Regions from separate parts of the Homo sapiens genome. Here all the other regions are reported to be linked to region 1. The links are microRNA targets in miRTarBase. Many come from high-throughput screens and were not tested one by one. Region 1 holds a microRNA gene; each other region holds the end of a gene's coding sequence.
What was found. Region 1 holds the annotated microRNA hsa-miR-216b-3p (ACACACUUACCCGUAGAGAUUCUA, at 2,941-2,964, opposite strand). A microRNA usually pairs through its seed, bases 2 to 8, with sites in the 3' UTR of a target mRNA and lowers its output. Matches are read on the target gene's strand: a 7mer-m8 pairs with bases 2 to 8, a 7mer-A1 pairs with bases 2 to 7 and ends in A, and an 8mer does both.

Region 1 (5,048 bases):
AGTGGGGAGGCAAGAGTTGAAAAACTACCTATTGGGTACTATGTTCACTATTTGGGTGATAGGGTCAACAGAAGCCCCAAACCTCAGCATTACACAATATATCCATGTAACAAACCTGGACATGTACCGCTGAATCTAAAATAATTTTTTAAAAAAGTAATAACAATCAAAAAGTAAACATGCATTTATCATATGACCCAACAATCACATCTCTTGACATTTATCCCAGAAAAATGAAAATTTATGCTCACACAATAATCTTAGACTATATTGTTTGTAGTAGTTTTGTTTGTAATACCAAGACACAGACACAAACTAAGTGTCCTTCAATGGGTGAATCATTAAACAAACTATGCTGCATCCATATCATGAAATACTACTCAACAGTAAAAAGGAACAAACTATTGATACATGCAACAGCTTGGATGGATGTCAAAAGAATTAAGCTGAGTAAAAAAATTCAATCTCAAAAGGTTACCTACTATATGATTAAATTTATAAACATTCTAAAAATGACAAAATTATAGAGATAGTAAACAGATTAGTGGTTGCCAGGAGTTAGGGATGGGGCATCAAGAGGGTAAAGAGATAGGTGTAACTAGAGAGGGGTAACACCGGGATATTTGTGGTGATGAAATAATTGTGTATCTTGACTATGGCAGTTGTTACACAAATCTACATGTGGCAAGTTGCACAGAACTATACACATGTACACACATGAGTGCTTGTACACTGGTGAAATCTGAATAAGATCTATGGGTTGTATAAATGTCAATTTCCTGGTTTAGATATTTTACTATAGTTATGTAAGATGTTCCGTTGGGGGAAATTGAGTGAAGGTACATAGAACCCCTGTATTATTATTTTTTAACTGCTTGTAAGTCTATACATTTTTCAAAATAAAAATTTGAAAAAACAAAAACAAACAACATAAAACCTAAGTTTCCTGACTTGTAGTTCCATGCTTGTTCCTCTGTGCTATTTTGTCTGAGATGTAGAATTATGCACATTTAGGTAATTTATTTCCTTCCAATTTATGTCTTTTTGAACTTCAATTTCTTTGTTAGGAGAAAAAAAGGACTATAAAATAGGAGTGCCAATAATACCTTCTTCACTGGGTTTGTGAGAAAACTAAGTTAAATAATATGTGTAGAGTGCTTCATGCAATAGTGACTATTGGTCGTTGTTATCAAATACTTAAAACACTCCTACTGCCTGGGAGGATGCTAAATTCCTAGCAATGTTTTTATTGTTTCCTTTAATGAAACCTCATGTTTTGAAATATTTTGTGTAACAAATTGCATATATGGTTAATAATTTTTTTCTTTTGTTACTATCAAAGGCATTTTAGACTGTTAGTTGGAGCTTCTGATTAGCAATTGCATCAATATTGAGTTGAATTAAATCCAATGAAAGCAAAGAAACCTGATATTTGGAGAGCCTTCTTATCCTCATCTAAGGAAATGTATTTCTTTCAGGTCACCTGAAGTGGTGAAGTGTCTAAAACATCTTGTTGATCTCCAGCACTGAGTTTACAGACTCTAGACATAGTTGGGCTCCACTTTTCAATGAACAAGCCAAACCTTATTATTATAATCTGAGTGAGTTGACATTTTGTGTGTGATCTAATTCAATTTTTGAATGTTACAATTTTTTCCATCACATCATGGGAAATTGGTGTGGTCCAGAAATAATCCAAATGAATTCACTAAGAATGAAACTGAAGATGAATTTTTAACATGCTACCAGAAGTTATTGATTAACAGGCATACCAATGTTTCAGATACTAACAGATACATAACATTATTATAAATATATAAAAATCAAATTATGGCTTTTATTCATTGTCATTGAAGACCAATTTCAATAATAATTTTTAATACTTTTTATTTTTTGTTTTACCTTTTAGTCATGACATTTTTATTATATTAGAGGAGAAGGGAAAATAATTTTTTTAGTATATAGAAATTGGATTGCTTACAGACAAATTAAACTTAGGAGGGAAAATTATAAAGGATGTTGAAAACTATAAATTTAAACAAACATCTCTTATTTTGACAGGATATGTTTCAGAGAGAACAAATCTTGAGTCTTTCAAATATTACTGGGCCAGACTAAAATAATTTCATTGTGAGAGCATTTTCCTTCTCTGTGTGCAGTCTAAGTGCATATTTTGTGCTCTTAGGAATAACTTTCCAAAGCTGTGCGAAGAATGTAGCAATAAAATCTAATAAGAATTATGGCTCATGACTTGAATGATGTCAGTACCCTTTTAATCCTCCCAAACATGAAAACGTTTTCTCCTCTTAAATAAGATTTCTTAACTCCTTATTTCTAAGGAAATAAGTACATCTGAGCAATTCTATTGGCAAAGTAAGAGTTAAATGAAAATGTTTCTTTCCATTATTATTAATGCTTATACTTATTAAGACCACTACTTTAGAAATGTATTCTAGACAATATTTTTATGAATACATATTATTTTGTCTGATTATTTTAGTGTTCCAGTTATAATCTTTTGCTCTCTCTAAGCCAGTGGTTCTCAAACTTGAGCATGAATCGGAATTACCTGGAAAGCTTGTTGAAACACAGATTGCAGGGCCCATTCTGAGTTTCTGATTCAGGAGGCCTCTAGTGGGGTGCAAGAATTTGCATTTCTAACAGGTTCCTAGGTGACGCTGCTGATGCTAGTCTGGGAATCAAACTTTGACAACAACTGCTTTAAGCCATGTTACAAACAACCTTCTTATTTTAAAATTTAATTTAGTGGGATTCAACCATCACGAGGCATGTAGTCACCTTGGTTTAGAAGAAGTTAAAGTTCAGTAAGTGGGCTATAGCTTGGCTTTTTGGCCATGCTAGATTTATTCCAGGCCAAAGAACTGCTTATAACAAAAGCATAGTTGATGAAATGGTTCGATGCTTGAAGATGTCAGACTGTAGAATCTCTACGGGTAAGTGTGTGATTTCCTCAGTGACATCACATTTGCCTGCAGAGATTTTCCAGTCTGCCACTTTGAAGTTGTACTTAAGATAGAAAAAAGTTGTCGTCATTCTACAGTGATCTTTCTGGTCTTGCTAAATTTTAAAACTATATTTATTCAAGATTAAAATTGATGGGAAGTAGGAGTTATAGCTGGGATTCAGATAGGTGCATAAATGAGAATGGATACTCTCTAATTTTGCCACACATCTCCATAGAGAATGAAGGAAAAGATGAAAAGTGAAGTTTCCCAAGCCACAACCAGTGGATGAGACTAGTATACCTTGGTCATGGAAGAAAGACGAGGCTTCTTATGCCATCATTCATTTTTTTTTCTCAAATTATGCTGTTTGTTTCATATGTGCTTATTTTACCAGTGTGTTAGTCACACCAAAAGCCTTATGGTCAATCCAGGTAAATATCCTTGCATTTCAAGCAATTTTATCTAACGTTAGACTTTGCAGTTGAGTTTCTTAGTCTTTTGTAATTTAGTTATGCCTAAGTAATAACAAGATTAGATGAGTAGAATGAGGAGATGTGCTTTTTACTTTTATTCTCTCCATCTTTCTTCTGCCTAATAATGGTCTTATGATAATACCATCACCTGCTGCTAATCTTTAAAGTGCTGGAATAATGCATGATATGCAATATTTACTTTAGAGCTCAAAAATCTAACTTGTGAATATTGTGATATTATTAACACTACAATGTCGGGTTTTGGGTCAATGTCAACTATAAATTTATTCCAACATTTTCCTAGAACAGGGACTTCATATATTTTGTTCTCTTCTATATCCCAGCACATGGAATAATTCCTGGCCTATAGGAGGTGCTCAGTAAACATTTATTAATGATTGGCTATTACTTAGGATGTTTTTTGCAAATACTTGTTTACCATTAGAAAGGAAATATATATATATATATTCACATATTTTATTGATATTACAGTGACATTTAATTTCAGACAAGATAAAATGAGAGAATATTTAAATATGTAAATCTTGGTAATAAAGAATCCTCCTACAATAAAATGCATTATAATACAATTTTTTGTAATACTTGGTTTAGGAGTAGATTAATAACTTCCTTAAAGTATAACAATGTTATATTATGTTTTTCAGGCATGTAGTTGAATTTCAGATGATGAGTTTTTTAGTCCGGGTTACGTCCAAATTTATGTAATAATGAATCACAAAATTAGGGTTGATTATGTTTACACTACACAACACAGTGTCTTGATTATCTGTTAATCTGCTATACACACATCCTTGGACCTCAAGATGACTTTAAAAGCGTCCTCTCAATTGCATTCTGACTTTCCTAAATAAACCATAAATAGAAACTTAACAGTAAATCTCTCATAAGTGTGCAGAGGATATAACAGGTGGCTCTGATCTGATGTAAGTGTAGCTAAAATAATGTGTTGAAATAATTGCAGCTTAGAAAGATAGAAAACATCTGGGCTTCAAGGGAGAACACTTCCATCCTTTTTGCTGCTTTTAAAAATAGAGAACTACATCATTCTGGGTTGCATAGAAAGAAGGGGCTGTGTTAGAAACTCTATGATCCTCAGTCTGTTCATCTAAAGCTCCAAAGGATGAGACTACTATACCTTGGTTGTGGAAGAAACACTAGACTTCTTAGGCCATCATTCATTTTCTTTTCTCAAATTATTATTTTTGTTTATTTGTGCTTGCAGGGCCTGATTAACAGTGTCACTTGTTCTCTTGAAGGAAAACTGAAGTTGTGAATGATGGAATTATAGTTGCCATTTCTCCAATTGTTGATATCTTGTTTGTTCCTTTGCTCCATGGGAAGGCATGGATGGAACAGAGCTTTGAGACAGAATCCTCATTTTAGTTGCCTCTATGAGTAGGCTGTTTAGAGGCTGCCAGCCTATAATATGGGGCTCTTGTTAGTTTAAGTACTTAGGTAGAAAAAGACCCTTCTATAAATGCAAATTTTTAATATCTAAGCATTATCTGCCACCAACATTAGTACAGATGAATTTATAAGATTATTTCTAGCAGACAGTAAAGACCTGAAAAAAAAATTGAACAGTACA
Region 2 (3,000 bases), not on the chromosome of region 1:
CGAGCCCACACTGTGCTTGAGCACGGTGTGATTCTGAGGCTTGGTGGGGTCTGCCGAGCTTCCTGGAGCCGCTGCCACTTGCTTTTCTTTCTGCTTCCAGGAGATCGAGCGATTGAAAAGTGAGAAGCCCACATGGGAGCGGAGGCTGCGATGGGAAGGGATGAAGTCCGTCTTTGGGGGGCCCCCCTCACTCCTCTGGATGAATCCCTTTGTGGGCTTCCGATTTAGGCGACTGCCCACGAGACCCAGAAAAGGTGGCCCGGAGTTCTCAGTGTGAGGCGTGGCTCATCAGACTGAAACTTGCTCACAGACTTCCAGTTATTTATTTGGGGTCTGAAGGATATCAACAGCTCATCTGTGACCAACAGGGCAACTGGAACCTACACAAACCAATTGCTTGCAGCAAGCAGAGTTTTATATATTTATAGTCACAGATGGCAGAGGAAGAGGCTCTCAGTCCCCACCTGTACAACAACGGAAAGGTGTGTGGCCACACGAAGAAGCCAAACGCCGTGGCCTCCTGCAGAGCTGGGGCTTCTGTGGAGAATACTTCGGGTTATTACATGGGTTATTCAAATCCTGGGTCCTGAGCTGCTGTTTCCAATCATGAAGAAAAACAGTGAATCCAGTGAACAGGGATTCTCCAAGCAGTCATTTCAGGGGGCTCCTGCTGACCCCGCCACTCAGCAGTGCACTCCCCGGATCACAGCAGGGCGTTTACATAGAAAGACGTTTTGGTCTCGATTAGCTCCGATGCTTTGCACTGAAGTTGCAAAAGATCTGTGCACTGAACAGTGAAGGTGGCTTCCGGCACACTCCCCGCTGCCCCGGAAGAGACATCCTTTGACCCTCTCAGCAAGTCTGTGTGTGTGCGTGTCTGTGCGTGTGCGCGCGTGTGTGCATGTGTGTCAAAATTGCCAGTGTTGTTTAGGCAATGTAACATTTACCGGCTGTGTACAGCAAACAAGCTATTTTTTAGAAACCGACGTTTCAGGGAAGAGGGGAGAGAGCCGCGGGGTCCTGCCCGTGGTTACTATGAATGTATTGCTGTTGGAGGACATCTCGATCCAAAGAACAGCCGTTCCTGTGCGGCCCTTCGTTGCCCTCCTGCTTTCATTTTTTAAAGAAATCTTGAGTGCTTGAGGGCCTTGGAACTGATTTTTTTTTTTTGTTCCAGCCAAATTAGCAGTGTATAAATGGCACCTAGGTAAGAGCAGAGCTGCGGCTCGGTGACTTGATACTTGGGGCAGCCCGATGCTGTGTGTGGGGCAGGGGAGGCATCCTTACTGGAGAGGCAGGGCCCAGCCATTGGGCACCTCTGGGAAGGGGAGGGGACCATGAGGCAGCCAGCCCCTGGCAGGGGCGACTGTGCCACCGCAGGCAGCGCTCCAGTCGGGAATGGCCAGGATGGCGCCCTCTTGTTGGAGTTTTTGGTTAGCTTTTACGTTTTCTTCTCCACCCACGGCACAGGTGATAAAATAGGATCCTTGGTGCGGAGCTTAAAATTATGCCAGAAAGCCAACAGCTCCCCTCGTGGGGCCTTGCCTTAAACTTGCCTGGTTTGTACATTTTTTGCCGGACGCATCAAGAAGCAATCTGTGACAAAGTCTGAGGGTCTTCCTTTATGCTTGCCCTCCACACTAAGAGAAGTTGGCGTCTCCCTCCTGGGAATTGTTTTGCCTTTCTGTTCATCTGTGAACTGTTTTTTGTTTTTAATTACTCTGTACCCCATCCGAATCAGGGCTTCTACCACTGCTGATGCAAAACCACAAAGGGACCTACCTGAGCCACCGTCCTAGCCAAGCGAGCAAACCTGCAGGGGGTTTGGAAGTGGACTTGGTCACCGCAGAAGCGTGTGCGCCGTTGGGGGAAGAGCTGCGTCACAGCCAGAGGGACAAAGTGTGGGTGATCCTGGAGACGCCAGTTTCCGAGATTGTTCTGCATATTCATTTGCACATTGTTGTCTGGGTTGGACATGCGTGTGGGCTTCAGTGTGAGGCTTTTAATATGTATATCCTGTTATCAATAAAACAATTATCCAAGTGGTTGAATCCTGTGAGACTTGGCAAGTGTGTGCAAATCAAGTATACTTGACTTTTCAACCTCTTCTTTCAATGTAACTTTTATATGAAATAAAGTAATCAATTAACAGTTCTCAAATGGCTTCCAAAGCGCCCGTTCTTCCTGGATGGTGGTGTTTTCAGGGGGTGCCTTTCCGTGCTTCGTGGGCCCAGCCCCAGGCTGTTAAGGTCACTCCCAAACAGTTTCCAGAAACTCTAAATGCTTTTGTGCCCATGACAAGTGACCTGGGCACTCAAGCGCGACTCACAAATGTTGCCCAGTGAGTACTGTTGCTTGTTGAATGTTTAATTCGACTCCCATCGTTTTACTTAGTCCTTTTTTTAGTGCACGTTGAAATAAAAACAATGTTTCAAAATCTCCACAGTTCAGAATCTCAAGTACCTACAATTTGATTTTAATTCATTCAACAAATTTGTCTAACATTTGCACTGAGGGAACCAAAATGCCCACTTACCTTCCAGAGGCCAGATGGTCAGTGTGTGCCGCAGCCCTGCCTCGCTTACCTTTCAGAGGCCAGATGGTCAGTGTGTGCCGCAGCCCTGCCTCGCACGTGCTGTGCCTTGGGGCTCCTGGTGGCATTCCAGACACGCGGAAATGAGAAGGAGACTCGAACACGGAGGCGCACACCTGAGCCGGGCGGCTGCATGGGCAGCAGCCCTCCAGCTTGTGTTTGTGGCTCTGCCGAATTTTGCTGCAATATTATTTGTATTCCTTATATTAGATTGTTATGTAGGCTCATTGTATAGAAGGATGACGCTTGCATTAAAACAAAACAAAAATATCCTCCAAATAGGAAGGTGGCTAAATCCTATCTTCTATTGTACATGAACTTGGCTTGGGTATGGAAGCAGGGGAAAATAGCTTGAAGGGTAGCCTGGGAGCCGCACACAAAAAGCAGGGTGCCCATAAAAAAAAGCA
Region 3 (5,048 bases), not on the chromosome of region 1:
TCCAAGTTTATTTGGTGGAATGTCAAGATTGTTCCTGTAAATTTGTGGCCAGTGAACAGTGGCACATATTTGTATTTATGCGTGTGTGCTTACACTCTCTGTAGTGCAGCACAATTTTTAGTTAGTAGCAGAAAAACACTAACCCTGATGTACCCAAAACTTCGTGTTTGAGGGAAAAAATTTAGATGGCTCAGAACTATGTCGCACATGTGATATAGCAGGAGAGCAAGCGAGATAGAGCGCGATGTAGATATAGCTTCACTTTAATCCGAGGCATTTGCAAGTTGCTGGACCTAGATGATTCTTTATCCAGAGGACTCCCATAGGGGCTGGATTAATTTCTAAGACTGGGGAATCCCAACTTACTTTGGTAGATAATTCTAGGAGGCCTTTCAAAGTGCTGGGGGTGGGGGTGCTGTTCCTACTTCAAACTAAGCCAGTGTTGCAACTGCACCCTGTTCTTCACAAGTCTTTTTGGATCATCTCAGCTGCAGAAATCCTCTCTTACCTCTCTGATACACTTTTTGTTGTTTTTAAGAGACAGCATCTTGCTGTGTCACCCAGGCTGGAGTGCAATGGTGCAATCATAGCTCATCATAGTGTCGAAATCCCAGGCTCAAACAATCCTCCCACCTCAGCCTCCTGAGTAGCTAGGACTACAGGTGCACACCACCACACCCATCTAATTAAAAAAAAAAATTGAGGACTGGGCCCAGTGGCTCATGCCTGTAATCCTAGCACCTTGGGAGGCCGAGGCGGGCAGACCACTTGAGGTCAGGAGTTCAAGACCAGCCTGGCCAACATGGTGAAACCCTGTCTCTACTAAAAACACAAAAAAAAATTAGCCAGGCATGGTGACACACATCTGTAATCCCAGCTACTCAGGAGGATGAGGCACAAGAATCACTTGAACCCAGGAGGCAGAGGTTGCAGTGAGCCGAGATTGTGCCACTGCACTCCAGCCTGGACAAGAGAGAGAGACTCCGTCTCAATAAATAAATAAAATTTTGTAGCAAGAGTCTATGTTGCCCAGGTTGGTCTCAAACTCCTGGCCTCAAGCAGTCCTCCCACCTTGGCCTCCCGAAGTGCTGAGATTATAGGCATGAGCTACTGTGCCTGGCCTGGTACACTATTTATCCAGCATAAATTGGGGTATTTTAACATAATCTATGCAGCCTATCATCAGTTTTTTCTACACAGGTGATACAGAGACCAGTGGCAGAGTTATGATGAACAGTAGCATCCAAGATTCAGAAGCAGCATATTACTTCAAGCAGCTTACCCAAACCACATATACAAAAGAGCAGTCATGACTCCAGTCAGAGAAGAAAAAAAAAAATCCAGATTTAGATCTAGTCCTACAATACCCTAGACTCCATCTCCATCTCCAGACTCTGCCTCTCCCTCAGTACTCTCAGGTCATGTTCACCTGTTTGTCTTCTAGGATGCCTACAGGACTGCCTGCTTCAGGTTCTTTACATTTGTTCTCTCTGCTGAACACTTATAGCACAAATATCCTTAGAGAGACCTTCCCTGACCACCCAAATACAAATAATCTCCACTCCATTTCCCAAGTCAGTCTCTATCACATTACCTTATGTTATTTCTTCTACTGCATTATCACTGTCTAAAATTCCTATTTACGAATTGTCTCTCTACTAGGATATCATACATGGATGTGATACATGAGGTCAGGAGACTTCATCTGTATTTTTTTCAGATGAATCCCCAGTGTCTAGCATAGTATCTGGATCATAATAAATGATAAATTTGTGAATGGATTGATTCACCTGAATTATTTCAGCACAAACTAAATTGTAGTAATCACACAGTTGGTTTTTAATAATTCTTCATATTTAAGAACAAAAGAACTACCCTCATCTTCAAAGAAATCAGACACAATTTTTTTTTTGTTTTACTAACTCATTTAGGAATTCTTTTCTTTTCTGGAAAATAAGCTTATGCTAGACTAATTTTCAAGGCTGAATATTTTTCTTCAAATGAAATAAATATAAACACATTTCTATATACACAGCATTTTTATTAAATATACTCTGTGAGAAAAAGAACACCCTAAAGTGCCAGATTTCATGTAAATCCAATAACTTAGTAAATACAATGGTGAAAAAAAATCAGAGGGAAACATAATTTAAATAATCTTATAAAAGAGCAAGAACATATCTTAATCTTAAGAAAACAATCATCAAAATATAAAAGGGAAAGAAATCTCTTTTGTAGAAGAATATATTTCAAATTCCACCTGTTGATCATTTCATTTAAAAAATTCTATTCTAAACACATGGGCAGTCTCTCTTACCAATATATATATTTAAATCAATGGTAGAAAGGGAATTTAGACTACTCATTCACACTGAGATAAAGTGACATTTTTGTTGCACAACAGTATTGCTCACTGGCACTAACAGTGGAAGATGGAGAAAGTAGATTTCTGGATTCAATTGTTAGCAGCAGAAATGGACTAATGCTAAAAATTTAGAAAAAAATAGTCCAAGCTGTAGCGATTTCCAAGTAATACAAACATTAACCAAACATTGCCAATTTGTAACGGGCTGTGAAAAACATATGAAAATACTCTACATTGAATACTAGCTTTATGTTACTTTCTATTAAAGATATTCAGTGGGCATATTCTAAATTATATAGGGCTTCTATAGAGACCTAAACTAGCAAGTATAATATGAAGCTAACAGGACAGTGTCAGCATATCTTGGGATGTTCTAGCCAATGTTTGGCTACAAGTATTTGGAAGGGGTCAAATAACTATATGCACATTCAAAATGAATACTTATAAAAAGAAATCTTAATGTATCAGATATCCACAGACTGAAAAGTGTTACACATGTTGTGGGGGGAAAATACTGATGGTTGGCTGAATGACCAATTAAACATACCACTTATGAAAAGCTGGGTGATTCAGGTGCAAAAAAATATATATGCACACATATCTCTCTAATAACATCCTACCAACATATATATGTTGCATGACATAGTTAAAGCTGTGTTACCAAACTAGGATGTGTAAAGTATCAATGTAGTTAAAATTAAATTTTAAGTAAAAAGCTGCTGCTACTTAAACAAGAGAGTGAACTTTGGGGTTTATTCAAGAATTAGTTCTCATATATAAAAAAGTTTGATATTAATAAACAATTCTGGTCACCATAAGGTTTTAGACAGTATAGAAACTTACAGAAAAGTGTTTTTGGACCACTTTAAATAGTTGGAGGAAGCAAATAAAAGGATTAAACTGGATTATGAGTATGAATGCATTTATGATCAAAATTAACACACCAAAAAAATCAAACCACATTTCACAGCAGAACCTGCAAAAACGTTTGTATTCATCTTTTTTGAACCATAAAAAAGAATGATTTAGTCTTGTCTAATACGACTTTTAAGCAACAAAAATAATTTAATCATGAAGTATCAGCTTGATTATGAATATATTCTATTATCTGTATCAGTTGGTAAATTAACTGTGTTACCCAAAAAGGCTGACCAGCTCTAACTAGTATGAACAGGATATTGAATTCATTAATGAATATATAACTATTTTGAGCATACAAATAATCTCTGGTTTTACACCCACTACATTTCAGAATCCTGTAAACTGTGAGGCATACAATATGTTTAATGTGGCAGAAAATCATATGAAATGATTATTTTATTCTGTTCAGTCCTTTTCCCATTAAGCATGCAAACACCGTCATAACCATCTTTGGTTTCACTTCTACGAGGTCATCAGGTAATGCATATATCCGGGCACCGATCTTTCGAGCAACTGAAATGGCGTATCTTGAAGAGACAAGAAAAATATCTTGGTGTTATCCACTGTGTTTTCACTTAACATATTTTAACAAAAGAGTGAAATATTTTGACAAGATTAGTTTTACGAAAAGGTTAAGTTTGTGAGTCTTAAATCTAAGACTCACATATAAGTTATATTTAAAAATATGAATTTTAAGGGCATAGTAACTTTTCCTATAAGGATTTTAGAGAATTAAAGGGCCATGTATTGTAATATAAACCATAAAGGCTTACTTAGCATTGTTCAGCTTGTCCTCATCAGATAAGTTTTCTCTCCTGATCATTTCTTGACGAACTGCATTTGGTGCAATGGCATCTATTAAATCTAGGACAGGTAAACTTGTGCTTATAGATTTATCCTAGAAAATAAAGCATAGATGAACATTCATAAACATCTGACCTTTAATTTTCATTATTTTCAGACTCTTCTGATCATATAACTGAAGGCAATCTACAAATTCTTTGTACTTAACCTAACGTTCAGCTTTTCTGCAACCAGCACACATAAATAAACCCTTTAAAATATACTTTTCCTTGAATCTTTATATATAATATAGAGTTGTCACCATATCTGAATAAGGTTTGTGGACATGATAGCTCCTAAGTATGCTAACTATAGTGTCCATTCTGTAAAAAATACAAAACTTTTGAAAGGGAATAGATGAATTTTTAATTAACAATTTTATAAATTCTACTCACATATTTCTTAGACCATGAATCCAAAAGCCTTCCCTTAATATTTTTCAGAAAGAAAAATGAAATAGTGAAAGGGAACTAACACTTACAAAGACATTGTCTTGTTGTTTTACATGTTTTAGTTTATTTAATCCACCTTTTAAACCCTAGCATCTTGATAGTAAAGGAATTCTTTTTTAAAAAAAGATGAAGAATATAAAGTTAAGATAGCTCAAATGACTTGTTTACACAACCAGTAAATACAGAACCCATGACAGTCTGACTCTAAAATGCCCAAGAGTCTCTCCATTTTTAAGTTACCACCAAGGCAAGCTAAAAATGGACAACTAAATTATAGTGAATAGCGCACTGCAGATGAAATCAGACATCCTGGTCTGAACTGATTTTTACCACTTATCAGTACTTGAACAAATTATTTGTTTTCTCTCTCAGCTTGAATAGTGGCCACCACTGCTTGCCTACCCAGAATCTACACACTCTTTACTTCTTTCATACAAGTAGAACCCATATTTTTGCTCTATATCCAT
Region 4 (5,048 bases), not on the chromosome of region 1:
CACATCCCTCCCCTTCCTCTTCCTAGATCTTGCAAGATGGTTCCCTTGTTTACAACTCCACTGGATGATCCCTTTTATAGCCAGCAGCTCCCTAGATGCAACTGGTGACTGGATGTGAAGATGGCTACCACCATAGACTGTAAGAGCCTCTTCCCTGAAAGTGTCTTCCTTCACCAGGGCCTGCCAGTAGAGAAATGCAGGGGGCTTTGAACCTCAGCTCCAAACTCTAAAATGCCTTGCCAGCAACGTGATTGGAGCATACTGCTAAGTGGGAATCAAAGAAGCTGGAATTTCACACTGATTGCAGGAAGAGTGGCGGAGAAGGTTCTGTCTCAGATCAGGAGTGGATGGTTGGGCTAGGTTTCTAGCAGCCTTTAAGCTCCCTCCCTTAGAAGCTTTTGTTGTCTCTCAAGGAGAGACACCTCTGCCCAGCCCTACCGTTCCTGAGTCGTCTTTCATCTGGGGGAGAAAAAAAGATGTGAAAGATGGAACCTGCTGTTCTGTTTCAGCACAGCAGGCCATGAAGACAGAAGGATTCGGTGTGGATTCTTCCTCCCAGCAAAGGGTGGTCCCAGGAATCCAAGGCCCTTGAGAGGTGGGCCACCCTCGTTCCTCTCTGAGTAGGGGAGGGGGCTTCTGTTCTCAGATGTTGTTTGAAAATCTCCGAGTAATCTTAGAAGAAGACAGATGTGAGGTGCAAGCAATCCTTTCCTCAGGGGTGTCTTCGCCACTCATGGATAAGGTCGTGGCTTAGCCCTCAGAATTGAATCCAGGCTGACAGGCAGTTGACACATTTCCAGGGTGTGGAATTTGGGCACCAGGTTTCAGCCACAATTCTGCTAGGCCTGGGTGTTTCTGCTCCATAACTCCAGGAACTGGGAACCCTGCCAGTTGTTTGTTGCCTGAAGTTCATCCCACCACACTAGAGAGCAGGACGGGATTCTTCTGAGCAGCAAGATGGACCCAATCATTGCAGAACATTCTATGGGATTCCAAAGGGAAGGCTTCGGGGAGTTGCTGTCATGTGCGGGCCACCAGCATTTTTAGAGTGAGAATGAGAGGAGATGGTCTGGATCTGCGAGATGACTCGACTCTACGGTCTGTGCATGATCATGGGGGAGGTACCAGGAGCAGGCAGCTGGGGATGGTCCCCATGTGGCTCCCAGGAACATGCTCTCATTTTGGAGAGCAGACCAGGTTTTTTGTGAATAATTCAGTATTATAAAAGTAGGAGGCAGTTTCTCCCACCAGTTCAATACCAGCTGAGAGCATACTTGTTTCTCACGGGTTAGTATCTCTCAGCAATGGGGGACTGTTGCATTATTATCATGTGCAGAATGTCCAAGGTGCTTCCTCGTGGGGTATCTGGAGAGAGACCAATTCACATCCTGTGCTTTGGGGGCAGGTGTCAGAAAAGGTGCAGGTCATAAGCCTGGGCCCAAGGGAATGTCACAGATGGGGGAGGTTCCTTTATCCAACAGAGAACAGGGAGATGACCTCCAGGGTAGCTACCCAGGCCAGGGAGGCACTCCTGAGACAGTCTCTGAGCTGGCATCAAACACCTACTTCAAAATGACCGATGTGGCATAAACCCAACCTAAGGGGTCATGACATACAGCAGATTGAGCTTTTAGACGTTTCCTGCCTCAGTCCATTAGGGCTCTCTATTTAGAGTTGCCAGTCATGTGAGCTGATGTGCACTCTGGCCTTGGAATTTCAGATAAACCATGTGTATTGCAGCAATGTTGGCAGGTGAGTGGGAGGGAGACCAAGTTGCCTTTACAGGATGTCTCGGGTCCTCCACACTCGCAAACTGACTGCAGGGTCCGCACCTCCATACATGCTCCAGCTCATTTGGTCTCACCGGGGCAGGGCTTATCTGGCCCCAGGTCCCCTTGGAAGTCATGTAGGCTGACTCGGTTTCTCTGGGGTGGGGGGGCGCTGTGTGTGAGTGATCTCAGCCTTCCTTAAAGGCCATGAACAATCTTCCTTTTTGCTACGAGGGGAAGGCACAGTATAAACCTTCCAGATGATTCTCCAGAGATGTCCTCGAGCCTAGGAGATGCTCCATGCTCACCTGGGCAGTTCTCATTTTAAGCCACTGAGTTGAAGCAGTTCCAGGACAAGCCCATGGCTTACCATCTAACCGTCACCTTCCACCTGCTTTTCTCCTCAGGTTCTGCTGTGTCTCTGCCTCAGATTAAGGCGAAACACACAAACTTACTCTTGCATAGTCCATTTCACGACATCCTTCCTAGTTAGTTTACCCTAGAAATGCAAACTGCCACAACTTTGCTGAGCATCTGAGGACGGCTATTGCTCTGTGAGGTGCTCTGATGTGAGCTCACTGGAGGAGGAGCCCTGGGGGCTGCCCAGCTGCTGGTCCCCATCCTCCTCTCCACCTGCCAAGGTCCCTGTACTCTGAGAGCCACCTGACATGGGAGGAACAGAGGACTCTGTCTTAGGGGATGCAGAGTTCTGTTATCAAGGACAATGTCGGGGGCAGACGGGATGGAAAATGTTTTTAGTGGAGAGACACATGATCTGTTAAGTGTCCACACTGGGTCCAACTTCATAGTCATGGAGCCTGGTTTGAAAACCCTGGAACCTTCTGCAGTGGTTCCCTGACCCAAGTCTCTCATGACTGTAGGGCCAATGCTACTTTGGACACGCTGGATGACGCCGGGTTACTAGGTTGCTGCTGATGGCTGGGCCAGATGTCTGAGTCCCCCCACTCCAAGCCTGGCGAGGGCCTAGGTGGCCTCAGGCTATGGAGGGCACTGGTCCTTCCTGAAGCCAGCCATGGGGGAGGTAGGGGAAGTTCTCTGAACTCAAGTTGCACATCACTAATGGCTCCTTGCCAAAGCCACAGGAATATCCCTCTGGAAAAGTGAGCTGTGACAGTGCCAGGTGTCTAATGACTGTTGGTGGAAAATGCAGTGAAAGGAACCATGCCCCCCCCCCCCCCCCCCCCCGCAAAGCCAGCCATCCCTAGGTTAGGCCAGGTAATAACCTTAAAAAGCAAAAGGAGAGGCTAATAGTCATTCTAGTCCCCACGTGGGAAAGAGTGGAGAGGCTGGCTCTGCATGAACCTTCCTATATAGGGGATCACCTTTGCCTCTCAACCATGGCGCACCCAGCCTGACCTGGTGCCCACCCTCCTGCCAGCCCTGAACTACAGAAAGGTGGAGGAACAGCCCTTGCAGCCCAGGGTAGACCCCAGAAGCAGAAGGACTGTGTGTCCCAGTCTCTCCAGCGAGGTGCTGCCTTGGTCTCTCGGGTCACGGTATCATGCGGCTCGAAGACTGATTAGTTTAATCGGGGTGTTGTGTAACTGTTGGGAATCGTGTGCTCTCAGGATCACCAGGTGGACGTGGTTGTCACGCTGAGGTGAGGGGCCAGCGGCAGTGGCTGGGGTGGACGCAGCTGGTGCCACGCACAGGGCCCGTGGCTGCGGTTTTGTCGAGGTCAGAGGTCACCGCTCTGGGGCTCCACGTTGCGGGTCTCCCGGGGCTGACCCCGGGACAGTTTGGGGAAGCGGGAAGCTGCTTTGGGCCGGCTGTTCACAGGCTCTCCGGGCGGGGTGATGTCGCTGAAAGAGCAGGGAGAGAATCGGGTTAAGTCTGGGGATGAAAAGCAAATGACCACAGGCCAGGAAGGGGAGCCAGGTGTGAGGGCAGGAGGGATCTGATTGGCAACTGTGACTGGCTCATTGGATCTGCCTCTAACTGGTGCCACCTGAAGAAATGAGAAACCCCTATTGTCACGTAAACCTTTCCATTTTTTTTTTTTTAACAGCACTCCGAGGCTCCAACCAAGCTTGGCTGTGAGTCTGAGCTAGCTCATGGTACCACCGTTCCGGTCTACATTTTAAGGCTATGAAAGAATGTTCTAGGCACAGCTTTCTTCCCCACATTTTCCTTGATTTTCCAGCAAAGGTACGCTTCTAAGTCCAAGGCAACTTTGGAGAACACTACATAAAGCCACACAAGATGCGTAGCAAAACACAGGAGACGGACTTCCTGTGGAATTAATCCTAAGAAAATAATCAGGCCCTAGGCTAGGGGCTAGTTAAAAGGTTGTTTGGCATGGTATTGTGTTTAAGAGCCAGGAACAGTGGAAGATAACACCAAGAGGGGGACACTGATCCTGGTTCTGAAGCAACGCGAACACACAGCGTGTGTGGGTCCCAGGGCATGGGTCTGGGTTGTGTGGGAGGCCCTCGGCACATTTTTTAGGGGATAGGGTAGAGGCTGGGAGGCTTCACCGTGAGAGCAGAGGGTGCTCAGCAGGAAGTCCTGTGATGTGGTTGCATTTTTTCAAAATTGTATTTTCTGGAGACAGTCTCGACTCTTGCCCAGGTTTTACAGTGCAATCGTGTAATGATAACTTGCTGCAGCCTCGATCTCCTGGGCTCAAGTGATCCTCTCACCTCAGCCTCCTGAGCAGCTGGGACTATAGGTACTAGCCACCATACCTGAGTGTAATTTTTTGTAGAGATGGGGTCTTGCTCTTGTCCAGGCTGGTCTCAAGTGATCCTCTTGCTCAGCCTCCTAAAGTGCTGGGATTACAGGTGTGAGCCACTGTGCCTGGCCAATCCTTAATCACATCTGTAAAGTCCCTTTTGCTAGATAAGGGGACACATAAATTCTGGGGCTAGGAATGTTCTTACTCTGCCTACTATACGCTATTTGAATAGGAAGTAAATACCTCACTGGGATAAAATGTTTTAAAACAAGGCAAAAACCTAACAGGATCCATGTCCACTCCTGCGTCCGCAGCACCTCTGTGCTGCTGTGGCTTGCTGGATGTAAGTCCTGGATCCACTGGACCCTACAAGGGAAGACAGGACTGTGTCCACAGCTAGCTCTGCCTTATCTGTGGTTTAGAAAGGACCAAAGATGCCAAGTGAGAATGTCAGATCAGGAACATCCACCCCCAGCTGTATCCAAGCCCAGTTTCACAAATCATGTGAGTTAAGAGACTTGCATTCATAAAGAAATCATTCCCCTCGAGGATCCCTGCAGGGTTCCCTGAAACAGCCTAGC
Region 5 (3,000 bases), not on the chromosome of region 1:
TGGAGTCCACTTGTTTGGTGAGTAGAGCCCACAGCTGCCCTATTTCACCCTTGGTGGATCATTGGTTGTTTCTTTCCTAATTCTTATTCCATCTGCCTTCCAGGTTGTGGCCTATGGTTTGGACATTTACCAAACTCGAGTCTACCCATCCAAGCAGTTTGACGTTCTGAAGGATGACTATGACTACGTGTTAATCAGCAGCGTCCTCTTTGGCCTGGTTTTTGCCACCATGATCACTAAGAGACTGGCACAGGTGAAGCTCCTGAATCGGGCCTGGCGATAAAGAACAAAGACTGTGCCTAAAAGTGGAGAGCCAGGGGAGTGTGGGTCAGATAAGCAGCTACAGCTGCAGTTTGGTGGATTGGTGGAGTATGTGTGTGTGTCAGTGCTCAGCTAAGAACTGTAGGGAAGATGGATGACCTTCACGCAGAACTCCTTTTGGGATATACATGATGCAGAAAGGATCCTACATGGAGAGAGACAGAACTCTCTCAGCTGACACTCTCAGAGATTCCTGATGGGCTTTCTCTTGAAGTCCAAAGGCGTCTGCATTGTTTCCTTTCTTTGCCCATCCATGAATGTTCTGTTTTGTTTTTTTTAATAAGAATTCCGGCTGATTTTTGTGAGGCCTGTTTAAATTGACTTTACTTTGCCTTTTGTGTTTCTCAATTTTATCTAGAAATCTTTCTGACTTTTTCCATCTCTTGCTTCAAAGTAAGAGGGGAACTCTCCTTGCCGACTCCACCTTATAGGTACATTTGGTGTTTTGCACTGGGAAGAAATAGGATCCATCCTTAGCTGAGGCTTGAGGACTGATCCAGCCTCTCATGGCTTCCCTCCAAAGTAACTTAGGGTTGAGGGATCTATATGTGATGTCAAAACTTACTTTAAACCTCTAGTTTCGTGCTGTCATTTATTAGGCTGGGCCACCAAATCTTTGTTTCAATTTATCAGAAGCCAAGTGCATACTAGCGTCTTGTTTGTTGCCCATTGCCTATACTTTTCACCTGAGATGTGTGAGTTGGGGCCTTTTAAAAACTACTGAATTGTCTGAGCCTTGAAGACATTTCCAGGGAGAAGAGATAATCTCTCATTTCACCCACAGGCTGGTCTAATCATAACCTAGTTAAAGATGTCCTTGTTTAAGAACCCCATTATTTATTTTTAGTTTTTAATATAAATTAACATGTGGGTCATTATATTTCTCCTTAAATGAGGAAATTTTAAATTTTATTGATCTAACCTTTGAAGCTTTAAAAAAGGAGAAAGAGGGTAGGGGTGGGAAACTGGCATACTGTGTGTATAGCACTGCCGATTGGCTAGGCCACTGTGTCTCTGCTACAAATTAAAGAAATCCTAAAAGTTTTCCTTGGTCATAGAGTTGGGGAATGACAGAATTTTTCTTTGTTGTGAAATGTATGTACAGAGTAGACCATCTCTAGCCCTGTGGTGAAAGAGGTACACTCGAATGTTTGCATAAAGCAAGTGACAAATGACACTGTTTAAGTCCTCTTTTGTGTCTTAGAAGATCATTTTGAGGCTATTTTCACATTAGAGGGGATAAAAGCAGTGAAGACATGGAGTAAGTGTATTTTATTTTAGTAAGGAAAGGTCAGTTTAATCATATATGGGTTGGTTAGGTTATCTAAAAATTTGTCATCTTTCTATGGTCATATGCTGATGGTAGATTATGGCAGAGAAGGAAGAGGAAATGACAACCATTTTATTAATTGTCAGTTTGATATTGAGTGACTGAATGTCTAAGAATCTCCAGAAAAAAACAGGCATCTATCATCCTGACCCAAGGCATATTTTAACATAACCTGGGAGAAGAGAGTTAAGTACAAGTTAAAAAAAATTCTGCCCTAGTTTTGAGAAAGCCTGGCTGGAATTCTGACTGTCTTACATACATATGTGCAAGGTTAGCCTGCAAGATTCTAGTTTTTATTTACCAGTGTGCCAGAATCTGAAACAAGCTACTGGGAGGGAAGGTATTTGTCCTTTAGTAAAATTCCCTGTATTTCAGCTGTAATCAAAGTTACCTCAAAGCAGGTGCTTTTTTTTTTTTTGAGACAGAATCTCACTCTGTTGCCCAGGCTGGAGTGCAGTGGCACGATCTTGGCTCACGGCAACCTCCACCTCACAAGCAGCTGGGACTATAGGCATGTGCCACCACGCTCAGCTAATTTTTTGTATTTTTAGTAGAGACGGGGTTTCATTGTGTTGGCCAGGCTGGTCTCGAACTCCTGGCCTCAAGTGATCTGCTGGCCTTGGCCTCCCAAAGTGCTGGGATTACAGGTGTGAGCCACCGAGCTTGGCCAAGTGCTTAAAATAGTTAATGCTAATGCCACAGTCCAATTTAAATCTTTTCTTAGTTCTCAACTTTCCTTAATCTTAAAGCAGCATTCGGTTCTGAGCAGCTACACTCAGTCTCCACTAATGGCTGCTGAGACTATGTTTCCTCTCTCAATTCTCTGATCTATTTGCTTTCTTGTCATTCCTTGTTTTTTGTGTGTATTCCTTGACTTACCTCTTCTCCTGTCTTCATTAATTAGGTTAATTTTGGGGCCCCATGGTGTTTCACGTAAAAAGATTTGGCTGGGCGTGATGGCTCATGCCTATAATCCCAGCACTTTGGGAGGCCATAGTGGAGGATCTCTTGAGCCCAGGAGTTCCAGACCAGCCTGGGCAACATAGCAAGACTCTATCTACAAAAAATAAAAAAAAATTAGCCGGGCCTGGTGGCATGTGCCTGTGGTCCTAGCTACTCAGGAGGCTGAGGTAGGAGGATCACTTGAGCCTGGGAGGTCGAGGCTGCAGTGAGCCATGAACATGCTACTGCATTCCAGCCTGGGCAACAGAGTGAGACCCTGGCTCAAAAACAAAAACAAAAACTAGTTTGTTTTAGTATTCATTAATTACGTATATGAGCACTGGTAGTCTAGTGTTTGTTCTTGTATACAGTGTTTTCTTAAATGAGATGATGCTATTTAATTCTGT

Region 2: the mRNA of ZDHHC7 is a reported target of hsa-miR-216b-3p. Seed matches in the 3' UTR shown: 7mer-m8 at 1,898-1,904, 7mer-A1 at 1,991-1,997 and 7mer-m8 at 2,068-2,074.
Region 3: the mRNA of PLS1 is a reported target of hsa-miR-216b-3p. Seed matches in the 3' UTR shown: 7mer-A1 at 2,367-2,373.
Region 4: miRTarBase lists SNX29 as a target of hsa-miR-216b-3p. Seed matches in the 3' UTR shown: 7mer-A1 at 293-299.
Region 5: miRTarBase lists EMC1 as a target of hsa-miR-216b-3p. The part of its 3' UTR that is shown has no 7-base or 8-base seed match.

What each region holds. Positions count from the first base shown.
Region 1 is chr2:55,997,784-56,002,831 of GRCh38, forward strand. MIR216B (microRNA 216b) reads right to left here and starts at 3,012; the gene lies at 2,931-3,012. All of the region lies in intron 2 of MIR217HG (MIR217 host gene), which reads right to left. The region is part of intron 3 of LOC105374690 (a long non-coding RNA gene); the gene reads left to right.
Region 2 is chr16:84,973,620-84,976,619 of GRCh38, reverse strand. ZDHHC7 (zDHHC palmitoyltransferase 7) reads left to right here. Exons shown (of 8, transcript NM_017740.3): 8 at 101-2,445. The coding sequence ends at 277. Among named protein-coding and RNA genes, the nearest start is that of ZDHHC7, 36 kb to the left of the region's middle. RefSeq lists an enhancer at 1-289.
Region 3 is chr3:142,710,637-142,715,684 of GRCh38, reverse strand. It overlaps PLS1 (plastin 1), which reads right to left. Exons shown (of 16, transcript NM_001145319.2): 15 at 4,060-4,184; 16 at 2,021-3,813. The coding sequence ends at 3,678. Among named protein-coding and RNA genes, the nearest start is that of TRPC1, 11 kb to the left of the region's middle.
Region 4 is chr16:12,567,050-12,572,097 of GRCh38, reverse strand. SNX29 (sorting nexin 29) reads right to left here. Exons shown (of 21, transcript NM_032167.5): 21 at 1-3,592. The coding sequence ends at 3,469. SNX29-AS3 (SNX29 antisense RNA 3) reads left to right here. Exons shown (of 4, transcript XR_007064988.1): 2 at 3,799-3,938. Among named protein-coding and RNA genes, the nearest start is that of SNX29-AS3, 42 kb to the left of the region's middle.
Region 5 is chr1:19,216,586-19,219,585 of GRCh38, reverse strand. It overlaps EMC1 (ER membrane protein complex subunit 1), which reads left to right. Exons shown (of 23, transcript NM_015047.3): 22 at 1-17; 23 at 104-3,000. The coding sequence ends at 283. The region is part of intron 1 of EMC1-AS1 (EMC1 antisense RNA 1); the gene reads right to left. Among named protein-coding and RNA genes, the nearest start is that of EMC1-AS1, 7.7 kb to the right of the region's middle.